Linked DNA regions of Homo sapiens. The protein of the gene in region 1 interacts with the protein of each later gene in a pairwise test. Each region holds a gene or a part of one and is shown on either strand. Other genes may lie near its edges.

The links. The genes of interacting proteins can lie anywhere in the genome.
Region 2: the proteins of TRAF3IP1 (region 1) and SMC2 interact in a two-hybrid assay, tested with the Homo sapiens proteins (2 studies listed by BioGRID and IntAct).
Region 3: the proteins of TRAF3IP1 (region 1) and GOLGA4 interact in a two-hybrid assay, tested with the Homo sapiens proteins (2 studies listed by BioGRID and IntAct).

The regions. Positions count from the first base shown.
Region 1 is NC_000002.12:238,316,132-238,324,358, forward strand, and holds the start of TRAF3IP1 (TRAF3-interacting protein 1), read left to right. Parts: upstream 1-4,386; 5' UTR 4,387-4,531; coding exon 4,532-4,654; intron 4,655-8,227.
Region 2 is NC_000009.12:104,124,923-104,133,064, forward strand, and holds part of SMC2 (structural maintenance of chromosomes protein 2), read left to right. Parts: coding exon 1-183; intron 184-1,718; coding exon 1,719-1,862; intron 1,863-2,363; coding exon 2,364-2,558; intron 2,559-4,722; coding exon 4,723-4,923; intron 4,924-7,086; coding exon 7,087-7,203; intron 7,204-8,142. UniProt on the Homo sapiens protein: Central component of the condensin complex, a complex required for conversion of interphase chromatin into mitotic-like condense chromosomes.
Region 3 is NC_000003.12:37,245,885-37,254,026, forward strand, and holds part of GOLGA4 (golgin subfamily A member 4), read left to right. Parts: intron 1-3,813; exon of another isoform or gene 3,814-3,858; intron 3,859-5,510; coding exon 5,511-5,600; intron 5,601-8,142. UniProt on the Homo sapiens protein: Involved in vesicular trafficking at the Golgi apparatus level. May play a role in delivery of transport vesicles containing GPI-linked proteins from the trans-Golgi network through its interaction with MACF1. Involved in endosome-to-Golgi trafficking.

The DNA of each region.
Region 1 (8,227 bases):
CTGTGGGTTGGGAGTGGAGTTTCCAGAGTCAGGAAGATTTCATGAGGCAGGAGTCAGAGGCTGGTGGTGCTCTGGCCAAGGAGTAGGGTTATAAACGGAGAGCAGCCAAGATGGAATCCCTCTGAGGGTGCAACTCTTTGGGGGCTTGTTTTCCCCACGGAGCATGGGATGGTTCTATATGGTGAGTGTCGTTAAATTCCCTCTATCATGGGCTGTCTCTCTCTTAGGTGTCTCCCAGCCTCTCGGCCGAGTCTCACACAGCCAGCCCACCTGCAAGGTGCAGTGTAGGAGGAAGCAAGGCCAACAGTTAGAAGGAGATGAGCCCTGGCCCCTTTCATCTGGCCTCTGTCTAGGTGACCAAAGCTCACTTGGTCCTGGATATAGTTAGCAGCATGAGGAGTGATGTTCCTAGGACCAGTGGACAGCATGGACGCTGCCTTCTAGAAGGTCTTAACTCCCCATTAAATCCCCAGCACTCAGACAGTAATCCATACATAGCAGTGATTCAGTAAATGCTTGAATGATACTTGATGTGGTATCTTCACTAGAGATATATGAATATTTAGCAAGGGCAGGGAAATATGCTCAAAATCACTAATCACTACAGAAATGTAAATAGGAACCATAACAAGACACCATTCCACACCCGTAGAAAGATGAACGTTAAAAAAGACTGACAGGGGCCGGGTGCGGTGGCTCACGCCTGTAATCCCAGCACTTTGGGAGGCTGAGGTGGGTAGATCTTGAGGTCAGGAGATTGAGACCATCCTGGCCGACATGGTGAAACCCTGTCTCTACTAAAAAATACAAAAAATATCTGGGCGTGGTGGCAGGCACCTGTAGTCCCAGCTACTCAGGAGGCTGAGGCAGGAGAATGGCATGAACACGGGAGGCGGAGCTTGCAGTGAGCCAAGACAGTGCCACTGCACTCCAGCCTGGGCGACAGAGCAAGACTCTGTCTGCGGGGTGGCGGGGGGGTGCAGGTGGGAAGACTGACAGGCTGGGCACAGTGGCTCACACCTGTAATCCCAGCACTTTGGGAGGCCAAGGCGGGCAGATCACCTGAGGTCAGGAGTTCGAGACCAGTCTGGCCAACATGGTGAAACCCCATCTCTACTGACAATACAAAAATTAGCTGGGTATGGTGGCGGGTGCCTGTAATCCCAGTTACTCAGGAGACTGAAGCAGGAGAATCACTTGAACCCAGGAAACAGAGGTTGCAGTAAGCTGAGAGCATGCCATTGCACTCCAGCCTGGGCAACAGAGCAACACTCCATCTCAAAAAAAAAAAAAAAAAAAAAAAACCCAAAAACAAAAAGAAGAAGAAAAACAAAAAGACTGACAATACCAGATGTTGGCAGGGATATGGAGTAACTTGGGATTCAATATATTGCTGGTGGGAATGAATGATGATGCAGCCACTTTAAAAACAGCATGGTAGTATTTGTAGAGTTAAACATATTCTTACCATACAACCCAACAATTCCAATACAAGAGAAATGAAAACTTTCACAAAGACTTGTAAGTGAATGGTTATAGCAGCATTTTTTTTTTTTTTGAGACAGAGTCTCACTCTGTCACCCAAGCTGGAGTTCAGTAACACGATCTCAGCTCACTGCAACCTCCGCCTCCCAGATTCAAACATTTCTTGTGCCTCAGCCTCCTGAGTAGCTGGAATTACAGATGCACCCCACCACGACTGGCTAATTTTTGTATTTTTAGTAGAGACAGGGTTTCACCACATTGGCCAGGCTGGTGCTGAATCCCTGACCTCAAGTGATCTGCCCACCTTAGCCTCCTGAAGTGCTGGGATTACAGGTGTGAGCCACCATGCCTGGCCAGCAGCATTATTCATAAAAAATAAAAAACTGAAAGCAACCCAAATGTCCATCAACTGATGAATAAACAAATTACACTATGAAATACCATTCAGCCACAAAAAGGAATGGCATATTAATATACGTGTAACAATATGAATGAATCTCAAAAATATAAGAGAAATAATGAAATACAAAAGACTGTGTACTGCATGATTCCATTTATATGAAACTCTAGAAGAGGCAAAATTATAATGACAGAAACCAGATTAGTGGCTGCCTGGGGCTGGGGTGGGGAAGGAGATGGGCTGCAAATAAGCAGCAAGAAATGTTTTAGGGTGCAGGGACTGTTCTGTATTCTGATTGTGGTGGTGGTAACATAATTGTATATAATTACCAAAATGTATCAACCTGCACACTTAAAATGTGTGAATTTTATTGTATGTAAATAATAAAATATAAATTTTAAGTAGAAGAGACCCCCACATCTAGATATACCATGTGCAAACTTCTGGCAAACCAATAATAAAAATAAAATCTTGAAGGCAGCCAGAAACAATAGACAGAAGAACAAAGAATTACGGAAGACTTTTATTCAGAAACTACGCAAGCCAGAAGTCAATGGAGTAACATCCTTAAAGTACTGAAAAACAAAAACAGTCAGTCTAGAATGCTACACTTTTCTTTTTGTTTGTTTTTGTTTTTTAAAGACAGAGTCTTGCTCTGTTGCCCAGGCAGGAGTGCAGTGGTGCCATCTTGGCTCACTGCAAGCTCCAACCCCCGGGTTCAAGCGATTCTTGTGCCTCAGCCTTCCAAGTAGCTGGGGTTACAGGCACACACCACTACGCCCAGCTAATTTTTATATTTTTAGTAGAGACAGGCTTTCACCATTTTGGCCAGGCTGGTCTCAAACTCCTGACCTTAAGTGATCTGCCTGCCTCAGGCTCCCAAAGTGCTGGGATTACAGGCGTGAGCCACTGTACCCCTAGAATTCTTTTTTTTTTTTTTTGAGACGGAGTCTCACTCTGTCACCCAGGCTGGATTGCAGTGGCATGACCTCGGCTCACTGCAAGCTCTGTCTCCTGGGTTCAGGTGATTCTCTTGCCTCAGCCTTCCTGGTAGCTGGGATTACAGGCGCCCGCCTCTGCACCCAGCTAATATTTTGTATTTTAAGTAGAGACGGGGTTTCACCATGTTGGTCAGGCTGGTCTCGAACTCCTGACCTCCCAACTCTAGAATTCTATACTTCTATGCTTAATAAATATTTGTGGCTGAATTTACTGGAGGTGGTTATAGGGGGACATGGAAGGAAAACTATAAAAATGCAATTTAGTATTTGTTGATAAACCATACAGCCTGACTGGCATTGAAATTGGTTGTCTGTATAACTTTTCCATTACCAACTGAACTGTGCTAGAAGAAATATTAAAGGAAGTTCTTCAGACAGGAGGGGTATGACACCAGATGGCGATTTAGATCTCCACAAAAAATGAGGAGGCCTGAAAATGGTAAAAATGAAGGTCAATTTAAAAGTTATAATGGGGGCGGTCGCGCACACCTGTAATACCAGCACTTTGGGAGGCCGATGCGGACGGATTGCCTGAAGTCAGGAGTTCCAGACCTGCCTGGCCAACATGGTGAAACCCCGTCTCTACTAATAATGCAAAAGCGAGGCTGGTGTGGTGTCGGGAGCCTGAAGTCGCAGCTACTCATGAGGCTGAGGCAGGAGAATCACTTGAACCTGGGAGGTGGAGGTTGCAGTGAGCCAAGATCGTGCCACTGCACTCCAGCCTGGGCGACAGAGTCAGACTTCGTCTCAAAAAAAAAAAAAGGTTATAATGGTGTTCTCATTAGAAGAACTACAGACCCCAGAGCTCTCAAATCGCCGGAAGGATTTCTGCGGTAGGCCTGTGCATGATGGACAGAGGACAGGTGGTAAAGAATCACGGACACCTAGTAGGACAACTAGGCATGGCTTTGTCCCGGTTTCAGAGCACCGACACAGCATTTAGTCACCATTTACCTTCTTGGGAGGTGGGTTAGGCAGCGGGCACACTAGTCCTGCTTTGTGGGAGCAGAAGTGAAGTCTCAGAGAAAACAGGTGACTTGCCCAAGAAGCCTTATTAATTACCAGCCAGGACAGCGTATTTTCTATTCCGTGTGTTTTGGGATAACTTAGTGCCGTCCCCTCCGATGAACCAGTGCCTTCGAAAGCCCTTGAGATTTGGGAAACAGGCGGCACAGATCTTGGAGGTTACCTTGTTCTTAATCAGTCCTCAGGCAGTCGCCTCTAACGCGAGCGAACACCGGCTTCCCGAGGCCGTCGCTCGGCAGAGGAGGGGCCAGGCGCCCGATCCCAGATCCCCTTTCCCCGCCCCGCCGCGCCCCGCCTGCTCTGGCACAGCCGCACTCCCGCAAATCCCTCCCGCGGAACCCCCACTCCTGCCTGCGCGGGCGCTGGAAGGCGGGCAGGGGGCGGGGCGCCGCGGCGCGTCCGTTGCTAAGGCCGCGCAGCCCTAGTGACCGAACGCCCTGCGGCGGCCGCGCAGGCGCTGTGGTGGGCTCCGGTGCACTGTGGGATGGAAACCGGAGCGGCGCGTCCTGGCAGGACCGGGCGGCGGCGGCGGCGGGGCCGGCGGCGGCCAGGGACCCGGGCTTAGGCTCGGCCAGGCCGGCTGAGGGGCGCGGGCGGCCAGCGGGCGGCGGACGCCGTCATGAACGCGGCGGTGGTGAGGCGGACGCAGGAGGCGCTGGGGAAAGTGATTCGGAGGCCGCCGCTGACCGAGAAGCTGCTGAGCAAGCCCCCGTTCCGCTACCTGCACGACATCATCACGGAGGTGGGCGCCGGGGACCGGGCCCGGCCAGGTGCGGGTCGGGATTCCGGTGGGCGCCGAGGTCAGGGCCCGGGCCGGGTGGCGCCGGGTGCGAGCCGGGCTCGGGCTCAGGTGCGGGTCGGGGGCCGGGGCTGGGCCGGAGTCGGGGCCCGGGCCGGGTGTGAACCGGGTGTGGGCCGGGCTCGGGGTGCAGGTCGGGGACCTGTTCAGGGCCGGGTGTGGGCCGGGCACAGGGTGCGGGTCGGGGGCCGGGGTCAGTTCCGGGGTCGGGGCGAGAGTTCTGTGCGGCCCCTGCCTGGGAGCCCGGCCTGTAGGCCCAATTCCGCGGCGCCCTCCGTGAGGAGGTCCTGCCCCTCCCCCGGCTCCGGGCCGCCGCTTACAAGGAGGCTCCGGGCCCTCAGGAGCATTCTTACTTCTTCCCTGCCTGCCCTTGTATTTCCTTAGAGTGCATCTTCCATTATTGCTGGCAGAGCTGCTTCTGTGACTCCTGCCTCGTCTAACCTTGCAGAACCCCTCTCGCTTGCCCTGAAGTATGTAGCACGTGGAAGGCACTCCCTAAATCCTGGGAGAATGGAAATAATATTTTTTATACAACCCTTCTGCCCCAAAGTTTCCCTCCATACCACATTTTGGGTGCTTAATAAATGCCTGCGGGTGGATTTAGTGGAGGCGGCTGTAGGGGGACTTGGCAGGAAAGACTGTAACAGAGCTGCACAGCCTGCCCTACGTTGAGATTGGTGGTCTCTGTAGCTTTTTCCACTTGCGGATGGTGTGCTCCTCCGTGACGGAGACCCTGGCTTGCTTATTAGCATGGCTCTGGTGATCTGCACTGGGTAAGGTACATAGAAATTGCACAACAAACATCCCCTGTTGAGTGGGACCTGTCAAGGCTCGTGGTAACTCCCTGGTAACTCTCAGGAGCGTCACTGCAGCGGGCGCAGCACCCATTTCCATGGTGGACCCAAGGGCACGTGGGAACTCAGAGGTGTGTTTTGGGATTTAGGATTCAGGTTGGACTTGCAGACTTCCAGGGCCTCATGACCTCACCTGGTGATGGTCCTCAAGCTCTGTTTCTCACTCTTTTCAACAGGTTGGGTGCCTTATTCTTGCACAGACTTTGCTTTACTGGTTCTGCCCTCCTACCTTAGCTTATAACGTGTGGTCTCCTGGAGCGTGTGCCTCTGTGTTAAAACAGTGCCTAAAAATGCTCTCGAATCCACCCACATCCCAGGGCCTCGCCAGCCCTGGTCATGTCCTCCCAGCTGGTGCAGCACTTACAGCCTGTCCTGGACAGTGTGTGGGGAGAGGACCTGCTGTGTGGATAGCCCGGTGGGAGGGGGACAATGTGCCGCATCACCACCGTCCCGTGAAGTAGGCGGGTACCCGTCCTCTGACCCAGAGGGAACAAGAGCCAGTGTGAGCCCAGCCCACTCTAGCTGTGGCTGCCAAAACCTTTATTCTCCCAGGCCTGTCTGTCCCACTGAAATGCAGAGCCCCAGGAGGGAGGTGCAGGGAGTGTGCCTTATCCTTGTGGGGCAGTGATGGCGCTCAGCTCACGGTGGCTGTCCAGTCACTACCGCATAGTTGGTCAGAGGAATCCTAATGGGAGAGGAGGAGGAACATGGGCTGGGTGCTGTGGCTCACGCCTGTAATCCCAGCACTCTGGGAGGCCAAGGCGGGCAGATCACTTGAGCCCAGATGTTCAAGACCAGCCTGGCCAACATGGTTAAAACTCCATCTCTACTGAAAATACAAAAATTAGCTGAGTGTGGTGGTGCACCTGTAATCCCAGCTACTCAGGAGGCTGAGTAGGGAAGATTGCTTGAGCCGGGAAGGTTGAGGATGCAGTGAGCTGTGATTGTAACACTGCACTCTAGCCTGGGTGACAGAGTAAGACCCTGTCTCAAAAAAAAAAAAAAAAAAAAAAAAAAAGAATTGCCTTCTTGGCCAGGTAGATAGGGTGTGTGGAACGAGTTGCATGTTCCCAATTAGGAACGACTGGTCTGCTCTTCTCCCATAGACTTCCTCATCTAATGCCAAAGTTGATTTCTCTCCCTGTGTAAAGATAAATAAATTATGACCTACTTGATAAAGTTGTTAGAATGACTGACATATTGGAAAGGATTTTCAGATAATAGGTGGAGAGCCTCTTATGAAAATGCTTTACTGTACTGAATATTATACACACATTGCTATATTAGTATTTTAGCTATAGCTACACTAACCACCCCGTTTCATTAAGCTAAGTGTGGATACTGTGACGTTAATGTCTCTTGTCACTTACAGTTATTGTTCACAATTTTTTTTTTTTTTTTAGAGGGATTCTTGCTCTGTCGCCCAGGCTGGAGTGCAGTGACACAGTCTCCACTCACTGCAACTTACGCCTCCCAGGTTCAAGCAATTCTCCTGTTTCAGCCTTCTGAGTAGCTGGGACTGCAGGCACATGCCACCATGTCCAGCTAATTTTTCTATTTTTAGTAGAGATGGGGTTTCGCCATGTTGTCCGGCCTGATCTCGAACTCCTGACCTCAGGTGATCCGCCTGCCTCGGCCTCCCAAAGTGCCGAGATTACAGGTGTGAGCTACTGTACCCAGCCTATTGCTCACAATTTTAACTGCCAGCATCCTGGGAAAACCTCAACAGGGACAAAATGAAAATGTTCCAGGAATGTTAAATGCAGGATGCTCTTAATATTCTACCTGTCATCTCAAGAAAAACAGTAGCATAGCTCTTACATAGTGTGGTGTGGAATGAAAACTCCTAGATTCATTAATACCTAACTTGATGCAAATTAAGGAGTTGTGGCTTGATTCCAGAGGAGGCTCTCATTAGGGTGGGACTGTCTTGTTTTTAAAACATGTCTTCCCGTAATAAATATGCTTTATTAGCTGACCTAGGATATGTGGCTATGAGCATACCTGTCCTTACCACATACCATGCAGCCTGCTGGTAAGGGTCCCAGCTATTCAAAATGCTTGTTGCTACAAATTGTATTGATTTTACAGTAACCTACCACATTTCAAAAAACTGCAGTCTGAGACAACCCAGGACCCTGGCTGGGTGTGGTGGTTGAGAGGAACAGGAAAAATAATTGCCCTAAAAGCTGGTTTTAGGGCTAATTAGGAGGTACAGGTTACCTGAGGGAAGGGATGATTAGGGAGAGAACCAAAGCAGTGAGGTGTGGAGCCTGCCACCATCTTAAGAAGTGAGTAGTGACACGTGGTGAGGAGAAAGACCCTTGCAGAACTTCTAGTCTTAGCAAACTAGGTTGAGAAATTCCTTTTCTTTTCTTTCTTTTTTTTTGAGGCAGAGTCTCACTGCGTTGCCCAGGCTGGAGTCCTGTGGCATGATTCTGACTCACTCCAACCTCCACCTCCCGGGTTCAAACAATTCTGTTGCCTCAGCCTCCTGAGTAGCTGGGATTACAGACGCCCACCACCATGCCTGGCTAATTTTTGTATTTTTAGTAGAGACGGGGTTTCACCTTGTTGGCCAGGCTGGTCTTGAACTGCTGACCTCAAGTGATCCACCCACCTCGGCCTCCCAAAGTGCTGGGATTACAGGTGTAAGCCACTG
Region 2 (8,142 bases), on another chromosome or scaffold:
GAGACTTTGAAAAACACTAAAGAAATCCAAAGAAAAGCAGAAGAAAAATATGAAGTATTGGAAAATAAAATGAAAAATGCAGAAGCTGAAAGAGAGCGAGAACTGAAAGATGCTCAGAAAAAACTGGATTGTGCCAAAACAAAGGCAGATGCATCTAGCAAGAAGATGAAAGAAAAACAACAGGTAATAACTTCTTTTTGAAATTGAACCAACCTTTTAAAGTCAACATAGAGCTGAAGGTGGTAGAGCATCATTGGTTGACCTTATTCATCAGAATTGATCTCAGAATCTAAAAGGGAGCAGTGTTCTTTGGAAACAAATTATGCTTCTTACAAGTCAAAGGAGTATCCAGGATGAGCATCTCAAATCCAAAATACAAATTAGAAACTTTTTGAGTGTTGATCTGAGGCTCAAAGGAAATGTTCATTGGAGCAGATTGGATTTGGGATACTCAGTTACTCTGTATAATGCAAATATTCCAAAATCCAAAAAAAAAATCTGAAGTCTGGAAGACTTCTGGTCCTACACACTTTGGATAAGGGATATTTAATCTGTATTTTTCTCTGAAAACCCTGCAATCGAGTGTTTCATAGTTGTGAGTAGGGGATGCTAATTTTAAGGAAAGGGCAAAGTTGACGGTTGGTAAATGCTTCCTTCAAGAGTGGATGGCCTTTCTTCAGGAGTGGATTATTTGATATTCTGGATGTCATATCAGAGATTCAGCAAGTTGACATTTTTATTTGATAAGCACCTAAATGAATGTGCACTGTGAGAGCATAATGGAAGACAAAGCATGTTATATTTACAAGGTGTCATTCAGTTGTAAACTGATGATACTTTGTTATATCTTTTAGCTAATGCCAAAGCTGGAATCTGAACCTAGGTTTTTGTCTCCAAAGGCTACGTTGTTAATCACTTTTATGCGATTTCACCTAAATATATTTCCCTCGCATTTTTTTTTAGCCCACTCTAAGATTCTTGTCATTAAATAGCTGTAAAAAGTATTTTCTAATGCAGGGGTCCCCAACCCCCCAGGCCACAGACCAGTAACAGAGGAGGTGTGTGACAGGCAAATGAGGATTACTGCCTGAGTTCCACCTTGTGTCAGATCAGCTGTGGCATTAGATTCTCAGAGGAGTGCAGACCCTTTTCTGAACTGTGCATGCAAGGGATCTAGGTTGCATATTCCTTATGAGAATCTAATGCGTGATGATCTGAGATGGGGTGGTTTTATCCTGAAACCATACTCTCTCCCTGTGCCCGCCATATGGAAAAATCATCTTCCACAAATCTGGTCCTCGGTGCCAAAAAGGTTGGGGACTGCTCTTCTAATGAACTGAAGGCTATAGTGGGAAAGAAGAATATTGAGAAACTTTTTACACATTGAACAATTTTGTTTTTAAAAAAGCTTTACTTCCAGTAATTCATCTGTTACGTAGAATGTTATATTATTTTCCCTATAGGAATAAAGGATAAAGAAAATAATTTATGCAGAGTTCTTTGAACCTATAAAAATTACACATACTTTTTTTTTTGATATAGGAAAATAAACTTCCTTTTCTGGGGAAGCAGCTTAACCTGTACTTTCGGTAGCTGAGTGGTAACAAAGCTGTGGGTCTTACTTGCATGAGATTATTATTTATTTAATTGTTCTGTACATATTTGTTTTTCAGTAGTTAATAACCTATATGAATACCTGAATACTGTATTTTTTATAGGAAGTTGAAGCTATCACTCTGGAACTGGAAGAGCTCAAGAGAGAGCATACATCTTACAAACAACAGCTTGAAGCTGTAAATGAAGCTATCAAATCCTATGAAAGTCAGATTGAAGTAATGGCAGCTGAGGTGGCTAAAAATAAGGTAGGATTTATTTATCAAATTCGAGAAATTGAAAATGCGAATCTTTTTATGAAACATTAGCTTAAGATGTTTGACTTTAGTGTTCTCAGTCTTTTCACTCGTCATCATGAGAGAATGAGGCACAAATAGCTTTTACTCATCCAGAATTGCCAGTTTTGGGATCACATAGGTCAGTCAGCTTCTAGCAGTCCCTCTTCTTCCTCACTTAGTTGATTCCATCTACATTACATCTAACAAAAAACGCTCTCATTTGCAGCATGAGCGTGCAGCATGAGCATTGTACCTCCCACCCCTTTTACCAGGGATGATCCAAGTTTTCTTCTGTGTATAAATTGATTAGTCCTTTTAATGGTGATATAAAATATAGAGGGTTAGGTGATCATCTCTCTGCCTGTAATCACATTGCCCTCTTGCCCAGGGATCTGTCAGATAATTGTTTAGTAAATTAAAATTATTTACATGTTACCTCACCACATATTTTCTTTAATTTTTTTGTTTTAGGAGTCAGTAAATAAAGCTCAAGAAGAGGTGACCAAGCAAAAAGAGGTGATAACAGCCCAAGACACTGTAATTAAAGCTAAATATGCAGAAGTGGCAAAACACAAGGAGCAAAACAATGATTCTCAGCTTAAAATTAAGGAATTAGACCACAACATCAGCAAACATAAACGGGAGGCTGAAGATGGTGCTGCAAAGGTATACGTTTGTGTGCATTTTTTATACTAAATCAAATTTTTGTTACTGAGCTCTTGAAAAAATTTAGAAAACTGCTTGATAGAGAACTCTATAAATATAAATGGCAAAATTACAGCCTGGCATAAATTTGAGCTTGCAGCTTTAACTGCTTTTCAACAATGCTAATTTTCAACAAATTGCACAAATGTTTTATTTTTAGATTTAACTTTAGATATTTTTTCCCATCTACAGGATGTATTTACCAAATGTTTAGTGGTCTCCCATGGAAATAACTTTTCACCTCCAAATGTTGATAGAACTAATTACTGATGTGCTAGTAATAATGATATATATTCTCTACCTTATTTCAAATTGAATTAAAAAACTCACAGAACTATATATACAGGTAATCTAAAAAAAGGACTGAATTGGCTTCCACATGTCTTTATGAGTGTTACTGCTGTCAGTATTTGCAACTTTATAAAAAATCTGATGTTTTGCCAAGCAGCTATGTTTTTGAGGTTATCCCAGTTTCTTTCTTTCATGTGTCACAGCACCTTTACTTCAGTGCTTTAAAGATAACACGTGCTTTTGCAGAAATTCATTGCTTGGTTAAGAAGCTGCATTCACATGGTATTAATAATTCATCTAGCATGTTTTCTTATGAGTGTGTAACAGTTTGGCACCTTTTTAATGTCCAGGATATTTTTTTTTAGCATCCTAAAAATACATGAACTTTAACTTCAGAAAGATCAAGAACATACAAAACAATCTCCCTCTCTTCTGAAAGAACTGTGGAACTTGATTTAAACAACATTTTTCATGGCTACATTATAATCTACCACTTTATTACTATTGATTTCCCATTAGCTTAGTGATAGTGGACTGACTGAAATACTACCAATGGCAATGTTACTGCTAATAGTTTTTTGGTAATTGAAAATGCTAGTACTGGCGATTGCTAGGAGATTTTATTTACAAGAGTAAAAGGAGGGACTTGCAAGTGGGTCTGCTAAGAAGTCAATCAAAGATTTATACATACCTACCAGTATCAGATACTGTGCCAGGCACTGACAATGTAAGGATGAGCAACACATACAGGATGCTTTCAAAGAGTTTACAGGTCAAAAGGAAGATACACTAGAAATGATAATTGTACTTTGGGGCCTACAGGTGAGACCATATCCATGGAATTAATACAAGTCAATAAATTAACAAGGATTGGATTCTGCCAGTGAGAATGAATCATAATTCTAGTAGAAGAAAGTCTTCTTTAGGCACTATAATTTGAACTGTATAATCAGTTGTATTACATGAAAAATTATTATACAGTGCCTTTTTCAATATACTGTGCCTTTTTCAAAAGGTGGGGAGCAGGATAGAGTCAATGTTTAGGGCAGTTTCTTAGAATATATTTCTGAGAGAAAAATTATTAGGTCTCAGTCAGCATTAGGCTTCCATGATTTTTACCAAATCTATGACTTAAGTATTAAAAGAGTTTTAGCTTCTCATAAGTTGTGTTTTGAAGCAATAGATTGAATTTGGTAAATTCTGAAGGAGTTCTACCTGACTTACATTTCATTCTAATGGAGGTGCTTTGCGTATACTTCGTAAAAATTTCTCTGTGAGTTGGCTCTTCTAATGCCAAAGTAATAGGAAGATCTTTTGCTATACAGTGTCTTGTTTCTGTAGTCTGTGTTCCAGGTAAAAATATTCATCTTTATTCTTGTCAGTAATGAAACTCATTTTTAAAAATGAGTCGCCTAGGCACGGTGGCTCACGCCTGTAATCCCAGCACTTTGGGAGGCCGAGGTTGGCAGATCACCTGAGGTCGGGAGTTCCAGATCAGCCTGACCAACATGGAGAAACCCCGTCTCTACTAAAAATACAAAATTAGCTGGGCGTGGTGGTACATACCTGTGATCCCAGTTACTCAGGAGGCTGAGGCAGCAGAATCACTTGAACCTGGGAGGTGTAAGTTGCGGTCAGCCAAGATCGCGCCATTGCACTCCAGCTTGGGCAACAAGAGTGAAACTCCATCTCAAAAAAAAAAAAAAAATTAGTCATTGAAGGTTTTTTCCTCTTCAGTATTTGATTCAAAAGTATTAAATAGTTAAGAAACTGGCTTATACATATTGGTTTGTAAACATTCATAGATCTCCCATCTATTTTTATATGTGGCTAGGTATCCAAAATGTTGAAAGATTATGACTGGATTAATGCAGAGAGACACCTCTTTGGCCAACCCAATAGTGCCTATGATTTCAAAACTAACAACCCTAAAGAAGCTGGTCAGAGACTTCAGAAGTTGCAAGAAATGAAGGAGAAACTAGGAAGAAATGTCAATATGAGAGCTATGAATGTATTGACAGAAGCTGAAGAGCGAGTAAGTCAATTTCTTATGAATATCTGGCCGCATTAGAACATGACTAGCATTGACAGCTCTGTATGACCTCTGATGCAATTATTAGAGTTAACCTTTTGCAGATGTCCTTGATACTTTTCTTTCTGCTTTCCTTTTTCTCTTTTCGTCATTTTTTTCTTATTACTCTTATGCATCATTAGTTGTTTTTACATTCTATTACACCTGGAATGACTTTTTCACTGGCTTTTGTTCTTTGTCAAACATAATTCCTCACATTTCTATCATTTCATTTCTTTCACTTGCATTGAAAAGCCTTGAATAGGATATACTTCTGTCATCCTCTTGACTCTACTGTATACTGAAACTATATAAGTAATGACTAAAGCCATTATACACATAAATACTGTTTCACTGATCTGTAAATTCTGCAGCCTCTTCTCAGTTTTAATGCTCTCAATTACTCAATAATGTTATTCTTCCCTAACCTGACAAAACTTTGAGTCTGGGAAGGGAGTTTACTGTCATCTAGTGATGAACTTGGGAGGACCTATCACTAGAAAAACCCAGTGGGGGAAGCATTCCCTACTCTTAAGATAGCCATAAGAAATGGCTATCTTAGTAATTTTATATTAATGCCCCTATTAATGCCCCATACCTTCCTGAATGCTGGAAAATTCTGTTTGAATTTGCAAATCAGAGTAAAATTCATGAGAAATCTGCGACACTGATAATAGCACAGTTACTTTGAAGAAATTTTACCATAATTTTTTTTAACTGTTTTTGGCATGAATATGCACAAAGAGTCTATATTATATTAGATACCAAACAGATGAATCATGCAGGTATTGTGATCTCTCTAGAAAATGCTCCTGCTGGTTTTCATTTCTACATTAAAGCTTTGCAATATGTGATATATTTGTAGAAGGAAAACTTTGGTCTGAATTTGATCTGCATAACATGAAACTTGTTCACTTTTACTCGTTTACTTCTATTAGATGAGACCTGAGTCTAATATTTTTTTCAAAAGAATTTATCAACTCCCATCTCTTTACCAGAGGAGAAGCCTATATTGTTGATCAGCAGATGGCCTTTTTTTTTCTTGTGTTTTGTATCTATCTACATAAGCAATTACATGGATTTTCATGAAAAAATAAGATAAAAATGTAGAGAGAAGGTTAGGGGAGCGTGGCTGTAAAGAAGAGGGACAGCAAGGAAAACAGCAGGACTGACTAGAATTGTTAAAGGTGAATGTGAAGCCTCCTTGAAATGTAGGGCTTTGAGGAGAAATGAATTAGGAAGAGTTTTAGGAAGTCCCATTGCTGTTCATGGTATGATTATCCCTCTACAGCCTTGCTTGAAGGAAGACTACTCTAAAGTGGTGATATTTGAGCTGAAATTTCAGGCAACCGTTATGTCAGAGAAAGAGCATTCCAGGAAGGGAGAATAGTGCAGGGGCCATAAGACAATAGTGAGTTTATTATGTTCAAAGGAGCTGTAAAAGACCATATGGCCAGAACCTGGGGAGGAGTTTAATGCCATAAAGTCAAGGGATAAATAAGGTCCAATTCCCTTTATCCTGATGCATACAGGGCTTAAAACCTGGTTGATTGGTGCAGCAAGCCATCATGGCACATGTATACCTATGTAACAAACCTGCACATTCTGCACATGTATCCCAAAACTTAAAATTAAAAAAAAGTAAGGTCCAATTTATGTGGTTCCTATATATCATGGTGAAGGATCAAAATTTTGTTCATGTCACTGCTAAGGCTGACCTTAAGAGGAGAGCTTTCAGGGCTCCTTTTACTTAAGTTTATATGTAACACTTTTTTTTTTTTTTTTTGCCTTGGCTGCTAAGGAGATAAGGGAATATTAGTGGAGTCAAAATATTTTAAGGACTTTGTCTTATAAATTCTTAGTTCTAGTAATTTAGTTATATACATATGGATGATTTTATTCCTAATTTTGTTAAGAGTGTGTATATGAGTGTGTATATACACACACATCATACAGTATATGTATAGTATATGAGTATATATAATTCTTAGTGCATTATATCTTTTTGGTAAATAGCAATGTATGTATTGTATATAAAAATAATGAAAACTGTTTATTTCTGACCAAATTCCAGAATATAGAAGAGATTTTATATTTTCCCAGTTAACCATGTTTTTTATCTCATAGTACAATGACTTGATGAAGAAGAAGAGAATTGTAGAAAATGACAAATCCAAAATTCTTACAACTATAGAAGACCTTGACCAGAAGAAAAACCAAGCCCTAAATATTGCATGGCAAAAGGTACTTTTTATGTTTGTTTTATATGAGGTTGCAAGGATGAAAAAATATCATCAGTGGAGTTATACTCTATAAGAAATTTGAAATAGCTGATCTATGTTTGAATGAGGCACATATTCACACCTTAATTAAAACCTCTGACTTTTAAATGCATTTTTTTCTTTTTGAACTTGACTACTACCAGATCCTGGCATTCTTGTACTTCTGTAAGAATTGGATAGTAAACAAGCCAAGTTTAGTATTCTCTTTTACAGGATGCTTATTCAACAAAATCCCAATTCCATTTTGTTTTATGACAACTTTGGCAGATCTTAGGCTTCTTTACTGTTACTTCTACTTCCCTGACTTCATGTATCTGTCTCCTATAGGATAATTCCTTAGCCTCTCATGTGGAAGTTTTTCCATTTTTACTATAGCGGAAGATTCTTACTTCAGAGATTCCAAACATAGAGTTACTGTGCTGTTTGGTAGTTTAGCAAACCTGTGCCTTCTGGGTTTTAATGGGGCACCTTGCCTCTTTTTCTCTTTGTAATTCTGTAGGAACTCTATCTTCAGTAATGCAGCACAATTATCCCTTTTAGTCACCTTGTTTTTTTCTTCTCTAAGACTTATTTTCAGTGCTCCATTCCCTGTAATATTTTTCTCTTAAAAATGGAAGCAAAAGGCTGACCCTATTAATTAGTGTGCAGCATGTCGATTTAACACTGGATCTGAGAGGTTTTTTTTTTTTTCTTTTTTCCCACCAGGATTCGTGGACTTAGTACAAATCAGAATCTATTGTCTAAACATATCCTGCTCTTCCCAAATTTCCAAGGTTCTTCCAAAGCCAGTAACATTTATTCAGTGCTTATTATATGCCAGTCACTATTCTCAAATTAATTTTCTCATCTAATCTTCACAATAATCTAACAAAGTAGGTACTGTTATCAGCATTATATTCTT
Region 3 (8,142 bases), on another chromosome or scaffold:
ATTATTTTGTAACCTTTCTTTCTGCCTGCCATATATTTTTCTCCTTGCTTGTGAATTGTTGTGATCTTAGAAACAAAAAATGTGGCCTGGTATGGTGGCCTTACGCCTGTAATCCCAGCACTTTGAATCGCTTGAACTCAGTAGTTCAAGACCAGCCTGGCCAAGATGGCAAAATCCCATTTCTGGCCTGGCACCGTGGCTCATGCCTGTAATCCCAGCACTTTGGGAGGCCAAGGCGGGCGGATCACCTGAGGTCTACTAAAAATACAAAAATTAGTGGGGCGTGGTGGCGCACACCTGTAATCCTGGCTACTCCAGAGGCTGAGGCAGGAGAATTGCTTGACCCTGGGAGGCAGAGGTTGCAATGAACTGAGATCGTGCCACTGCACTCCAGCCTGGGAGACAGAGCGAGACTCCGTCTCAAAAAAAAAAAAAAAAATATGTTTTAACAACAAATACCTATTTTGGATTTTTAAACTCCTTAAAGAACTAAGTCAATAAAAGAAACATCAAGAAGTAATACAGACATTGTAATTTCTTGGGATATATGTAGTACATGAATACAAATATTTTAAAACATTTTTAGCCTTTTCAAGTACTTCTAAAACTTAAAAATTATAGAAGTATAGATACAAAAGGATGAATACATGACTCCACTTAATTGAGGTACCTAGAGTAGTCAAATTCTTAGAGACAAAATAGAATGGTTGTTGCCAAAGGCTGGAGAGAGGAGAGAATGGGGAGTTACTGTGTAGTGGGTACAGAGTTTTAGTTTGGAAAGATGAAAACGTACTGGTGATGGATGGTGGTGATTCCACAACAGTGTGAATGTAGTTCATGCCACTGAATTGTACAGCTACAAATGTTTAAAATGGTAAATTTTATGTTATGTATATTTTTAAAAAATCAACATATACGCCCCTCCTTATGCCTGCAGAATCATCCCTTATTTTTTTCCCTCAGCTCAGAGATGGCAGCTGACCTCACTCTTTTAGAGTGAGACCCCAAAATAATAGTTTATGTGATATAAATTTAAAAAATAAAAACAAAAAAACCAGCAAACAGTTCCACAGATAACAGGGAAAAGAGTCCTTTCTGAAGGGACATAGCCTTATTGTAAATCCAAGTTTACTAAATAGTTTCAGTCTTGAAATTGGGGAAAGCATGAGTCCCAGAGAAAACATTTAGATCAGAAGGTAGTTTATTAAGAACATGATGAAAGGCTTTAATAAGTTTGGTACCTAAAATATAAAGGTTTATTTGAAGAATTAACCCCAAGTTACTTTGACTGCTCTTTTAGAACTGGGATGTCAAATTGATTTGGCAGTGACTTACAACAGTGCTGTGATGAGGATTCAATGGCTGTGTCTCTGCTGTGACTAATCCATAGGTGTTGTAGGGAGAGTGAAATGAACCAGATGTTAGTTATGAACAGTGAATGCCTAGGTCCTCTGCTGGATGTTGCATTTGCTTTGAAGGGTCTATGTAGTCCCTACACAATGGAGTTGAGAGACAAGTACTTTCAGTGTAATAGTGATATATACAGGGTGTTGTAGTTGTGCAAAATAAGGCATTTCTGGAGAAGATCAGGGTGACATCTGAGTAGAGCCTTGATGGATAATGAAAAGTCATGGTATAGGGACAAGGGATTCAAGGCTTATTCCTAAGGATGACTGGATTAGTTTTCTAATATTGCATAACAAGTTACCACAACCTTAGTGCCTAATAACCCAGTTATTATTTTATAGTTCTGTAGGTCAGAAGTCTGGCATGGCATGACTGGGTTCTCTGCTCAGGGTCTTGCAAGGCTAAAATCAATATGTTGTCCAAGCTGCTTTCTCATCTGGAGCTCAGGATCTTTTTGTATGCCCATGTGGTTGTGGTAGAATTCAGTCCTTTCTGGTTATAGGACTGGGGCCTTCATTTCTTGCTGACCACTTTCGGCTTAGAGGCTACCAGCAGCTCCTTGCCACGTGCCCCTGTAGGCATTTTGCTTTCTTTCAGGACAGCAGAAGTACGTCCCTCTGCCCTCTAGACCCATATTTGAAGGGCTTATGTAATTAGTTTAGACCCATCCAGGTAATCTTTTGATGAACTCATGGTCAACTGATTAGTAACCTAGTAACCTTAAATATGCCTTTAAAATCCCTTTGCCCTGTAATATAACAATTATGAGAGTGATAGCTCATTATATTCACAGGGCAGGGGTCATTTGGGGTCATCTTACAGTTTTGCTTATCACAATGACTAAAATGGTTTTTCTTAAGTTTTTGTAGAGTCAGGGTCTTACTGTGTTACTCAGGCAGTCTTGAACTCCTGGCCTCAAGTGATCGTCTTGCCTTGGCCTCTCAAAGTGTTGGGATTACAGGCATGAGCCACTGTGCACAGCTAAAATGGTTTTTCTTACACTGAAATTGAGTATAACTGTGGTCAGTTAATAATTAGGCAGTGGGCAATAAAATATTAATTGTGGGTCTGGATGTAGCTGTCAGGTTTTTTGGTTAACAGCTTAGAAAGCTGACTCAGATTTCTTATGGCTATTGCAATTAATCAGCTCAAGTTTGGTTTGAAGGAACCTAAATCCCTTTATATCTTGAAGTGAGGATAGCCCATTAAGGAACCAGGCACCTGGGACAAATGCTGAAGTACAGTTAGTTCTTTATGCACTGTTATATACTTTATACTCACATCCATTTTCTCATATAATTCTTACTCTTGTAACTCCAGAGGAAGATCCAGAGGAAGATCAACAAGTCATCAGGCCACGTTTTGCCAGATAGTACTACTTTTCTAGGGAGAGTATGTTTTAGAATCTGTTAAACTTTGTAAACCCCGTTATTTGATTTTTTTGTCAGTTTCTCCAGAGCTGATGAGGCTCTCAGTTACTGATTAGACCATATGAGGCCAAGGTGTAAGACGTAATGCCAATTTTTCAGATTTGCAGTGAGGTATACTTTTTAAGCAGTTGGAAGGTCACTGTCTAAGGTAGCCCTTTCCTGGCATCTGGATATTTGGAAAGCTGAATTAATAACCCAGAGATTTCTTAGACATGATAGAATCACAACAGAGAGAGTTGATTAGTCAAGAGGTATTTCCTGTGGTCTAGTAGTACTTTTCTAACTTTTTACCACCCAGTGACCATTTTATTAAAGGAGTTCTTAGATATAATCATTTATAAATACATAGATACAAAAGGCTGCCCCCATAGTGGCAGCCTTTGAGGCACCTACAGCCTTTGAAGCTGGCACTGGCATGGTTTGCAAATTATGGCTCTAGGTGTGGGAAGGGTTTATTGAATTTATCTCAACTTTAATGAAAGCTATTTCTGATGTTCTTTGAACATTTGTAATTTGAACGTGGTGTTCAAGGTAGGCTCAAACTTATTCCAAGACTGAGACTAATACTACACAGTGACTGTGCTTTCCCTTGCCATTTTCTAAGTACAATGTTGACTTTTAGTCACATATTTTCTAGACATTTAAACCATTGCTAAGGCTTCAACTTTATTTCACATTGATTGATTTTCTTGTTTATATGCTTTTTTTTTTGAGACGGAGTCTTGCTCTGTCACCCAGGCTGGAGTGTAGTGGTGCAATCTTGGCTCACTGCAACCTCTGCAGTTGAAGCAATTCTCCTGCCTCAGCCTCCTGAGTACCTGGGATTACAGGCGCACAACACTACTCTTGTTCATGTTTTTAAGTCCTTATTCTTCCTGTTTTGTCTTTGGTGGGAGAGGATATGTCATCCCTTAAGGTGACTTCTGCACATAGCTAATTTCATCTGTTGTATTGATTTTTCTGGTTCATCTTTTAGAAGGTGTTGGAGTTCTTGGTTGTAAGCAACAAAAAGTCAATCTAGGTAAGCAGAAAAATAATTTATTGAAGACTCTTTACCCTACAGAATTTCCCTGAGGTCCCAAAAGTCTGAGCTGATTGCTACGTCCAGTTATACTGGGGAGACTACTCTGTGTTGCAGCTGCTTCAGCTTGGCACCAGCATTGCATCTGTCACTTCACAGCTTATATTTGTGTGGATGCATGAAGTTCTGTCTCCATTGTCATCAGATGATGAACTTTATTTGTATGTCTGTTTTTTCACATCACTCACTTATGACTCGAAGTCTCATGTGTTTCATTGATGGAGCTCAGGTTACCCTGTCTCAGATAAAAAGAAGATTGGGTTAGTAAGTTTTCTGAGTTCTAACTTACGGACTTATAAGAGCTGTTTATAGAAAAAAGGTTATTAAACTTTTGTCATATTTGTAGATGCTTTTCCTCACCTCCCAATTAAACTGCTGCTTTGATTTGTTTTTCACATAAAAATCTCTTTCCCATTCAGAGATTGTAGAAATAGACTCTTGAATTTTTTGTATTTCAATAAAAAAAATTAAATCTTTAATATAGCTTAAGTATGAAGGATCTGATTTGTGTGTCTTGCCCCATATGGATGGCCAGTTGTCCCAACATTTATTGAATGTCTATCCTGATGCAAAATGTTACTTTTATCATAAGCTAAATATGTATATGTCTGTCTGGATGTATATATGTGTATATAGAGTATGTGTATATTTGTATACTATTCCTCACGACCTCTCAGTTCCACCCTAACCACAGCAGTTTGTGCACGGATACCACAGACCAGAGTTCCATTTGTTTATTCATTCATTCATTTATTTGACAAATATTTATTAACTGCCTTTTGTAAAGTGCAGACTACAAAAAGAGGTAAGATATCATGACTCATTCATTTCTCAAAATAGATCTGAGTTCAGATCTATTTTGCTGTGGGTGTAGGGGGATTTCAAAATTTTGGTTTTATACTTTTAGGGTTGTTTTTAGCTCACCTTAGAGTAGACCCCAGACCTCTAGTTTAAATTTTGAGCCCTTTCTCCTGAGTTTTTTTGCGCTGAGGGTTATAGGAGTCAGGCTGTCAATTACAGAGCTAAATGGAATAGCATCTCAGTATTTAGCAGTGGTATTCAAGGTAGGCTCAAAGCAAGGCCATTAATTAGGTGGGCAAGTGCTGTTTATCTGTGCATTTCATACTATTGAATGTTAGAGCTAGAAGGTAGAAGGGATCTTAAAGATTGAATTGCCAGCCTTTTTTTTTTAAATGAACTTCTAATTTTGGAATAATTTTGGTTTATAGAAAAGTTCTAAAGATAGTGCAGAGAGTTTTTATATACCCCTCACCTGGCTTCAGTTTTCTCTAATATTATCATCTTACACTAGTATCGCAACTTTATTTTATATATGGAGACACATAGTCCTCAAAAAGTTCATGTAGCTAAGATCATAGTTCTAGTTGGTGGCAGAGTTAGGCCAGGGACCTAGTAGGTAGCCTGGGTTTTCTAGTTGATTATATTTGTTATCCTTTTCTGCTTTTCGTGTTTTTGCTCTTTTCCTTTCTTTCACTGAATTCTTTGGGCATGGACTGAGAGAAGGACTACCTAGTTCATAGTTCACTAGTCAATATAGTCTTGCTAATTTGTGCAATAATTTTTAAATCTAGGCGTCCTCCAATTCTTCAACACCAACAAGAATGAGGAGCAGGACATCTTCATTTACAGAGCAACTTGATGAAGGTACACCCAATAGAGAGGTAAGTTTGGAATTCCTTTTCTAGTATACCTCTCAAAAGAAACTAATCTAAAATGTATGCTGTTGATAACAAAATGGGAAACTTTTGACAGGTCAGCTATTTAATTCCTAGGTAGAGTTTTTATTAGTAACACAATTGGTCTTTTTTTTTTTTTTTTCACAAATAGCAGTTATGATTTATGTCTGTCTGTCTGTCTGTATGTATGTATGTATGTTTTTGAGACAGGGTCTGGTTCTGTCACCCAGGCTAGAGTGTGGTGGCACGATCACTGCACATTGCAGCCTTGACCTTCTGGATTCAAGTGATCCTCTAACTTCAGCCTCCTGAGTAGCTGGGACTATAGGCGCACGCCACCTGCCTGGCTAACGTTTAAATTTTTCGTAGACGGGGTCCCACTATGTTGCTCAGGCTGGTCTTGAACTCCTGGGCTCAAGTGATTCTCCCAATTATGCTTTATAAAGTATGGTTGTTGAGAACCTTAATTTGAGAGGATAATATGTTCTGGATTTAATAGTTGAAGTTTTCAGAATAATTTGATAAATTTGTTCAACATAGCATCATTTTTTCAAGCTGGTGAGTGGAAACTGAGAAGTAACTTATTTAACTTATTCCATGTAACCAGCAGCTGGCATTAAAACTCATTATTTCCCACTTTTTTTCTGTGAAGTGTAACACACATACAAAAAGAAGGTAAAACATAAATGCACGGGTCAGCAAATTATCATGAAGTGAATCCTCCCAGGTCAAGCAAAGGAACACTGTTAGCACTGTCGTGCTCCCTTTCCCCCTGAAGGATTACCACCATCCTGAATTTTTGGTATTTGCTTGCTTCCTTTTTTTTTTTTTTTTTAATAGTTTTACCTCTTAAATATGCTTTCTAAATGTAAACATTGTAGTTAAACATTTGGGTTGTCTACAGGTTTTGGCTACTATGAATTATGTTGCCATCAACATTATTGTACTTTTTTTTGGTGTACATGTACCTGCATTTCTGTTGGTATGTACTTTGGAGTAGAATCACTGCTCCATTTTAACACATAAGAAGATAATGCTGATGGTTTTCCAGAGTGGTTGTAGAAATTTAAATTCTCACCAGGAGCTTATGAAAGTTGCTTTTGCCCTATATTTTTGAGAGTCTTTATTTTTCTACTCTGTGTAAATATGCTGGAAAACAGTCTTTTTCATTTCAGCTGTTCTGGTGGTGGTCTTTCATTTTGGTTTTAATTTACATTCTCTGATAACTAACGAGATTGAGCATTTACATCTGTTTATTGCCCATTTGATGTCTTTTGTGAGTGCTTAAGTCCCTTGCCCATTTTCTATTGGATTATCTTTTTTTAAAACTGATTTGTAGGAGTTTTTTAAAAAATATAGAATACTAAGGAGTTTTTTGTTGAATATATATCTTGCAGCTATCTTCCACTCAGTGGCTTGCCATTCATTTTAATGATGTCCTTTGATGAACAGAAGTTCTTAGTTTTAGGCCAAGTATGGTGGCTCATGCCTGTAATCCCAGCGCTTTGGAAGGCCAAGGCAGGAGGATTGCTTGAGTCCAGGAGTTTGAGACCAGCCTGGGCAACAGAGTGAGACCCTGTTTCTGCAAAAATAAAATAAAATAAAATTAGCTAGGTATGGTGGCATGCACCTGTGTGGTCCCAGCTACTCAGGAGGCTAAGGCAGGGGCATTACTTGAGCCTCGGAGGTCGAAGCTGCAGTGAACCATGATTGCACCAGCCTAGGTGACACAGTAAGACCCTGTCTTTCAAAAAAAAAAAAAAGCCTGGTTCCCATCCATTTCCCATCCCTGACAGTACCTTCTATCTTAGAAGTTTAACAAAATGAGAAACCGCATAGGGTACAGGGAAATGATGAAAAAATTAATTTAATGTCCTTTTAACCAAAAACTTAATTATATAATTGAAAAATCCTTTATTTATTATAAAATAAGTTGAAGTAAGGTTTAGATTGCACTCTGTGGTCAAAGTACCTGTTAAAGTTGTCAAAAAAGCTTAAAAAGCAAGGAGATGAAGTGATGACAATGCTTTGTCATTCTATCCGAAACCATCTCTTAGCTAGGATTGTTAATATTAAAATTTAGAAAGAAATAAATAAACTTTAGCTGACTTGGTCGATTGTAAAAGAGTGCTAAAACCAAATCTTTCAGAAATAATTATTTTGTAAAGGTATATTCAATTAAATTATTTTAAAGCATCCTAGATTTTTAAAAAGTATTTTAAAAAAGCAATGGTAGCAGTCAGCCGGGCATGGTGGCTCACGCCTGTAATCCCAGCACTTTGGGAGGCCGAGGTGGGCAGATCACTTGAGGCCAGGAGTTCGAGACCAGCCTGATCAATATGGTGAAACCCTAAAAAAATACAAAAATTAGCCAGACGTGGTGACACGTCCCTGTAATCCCAGCTATTTGGGAGGCTGAGGCAGGAGAATCAATTGAACTCAGGAGGTGGAGGTTGTAGTGAGCTGAGATCGTGCCACTGCACTCTAGCCTGGGCGACAGAGCGAGACACAGTCTCAAAAAAAAAAA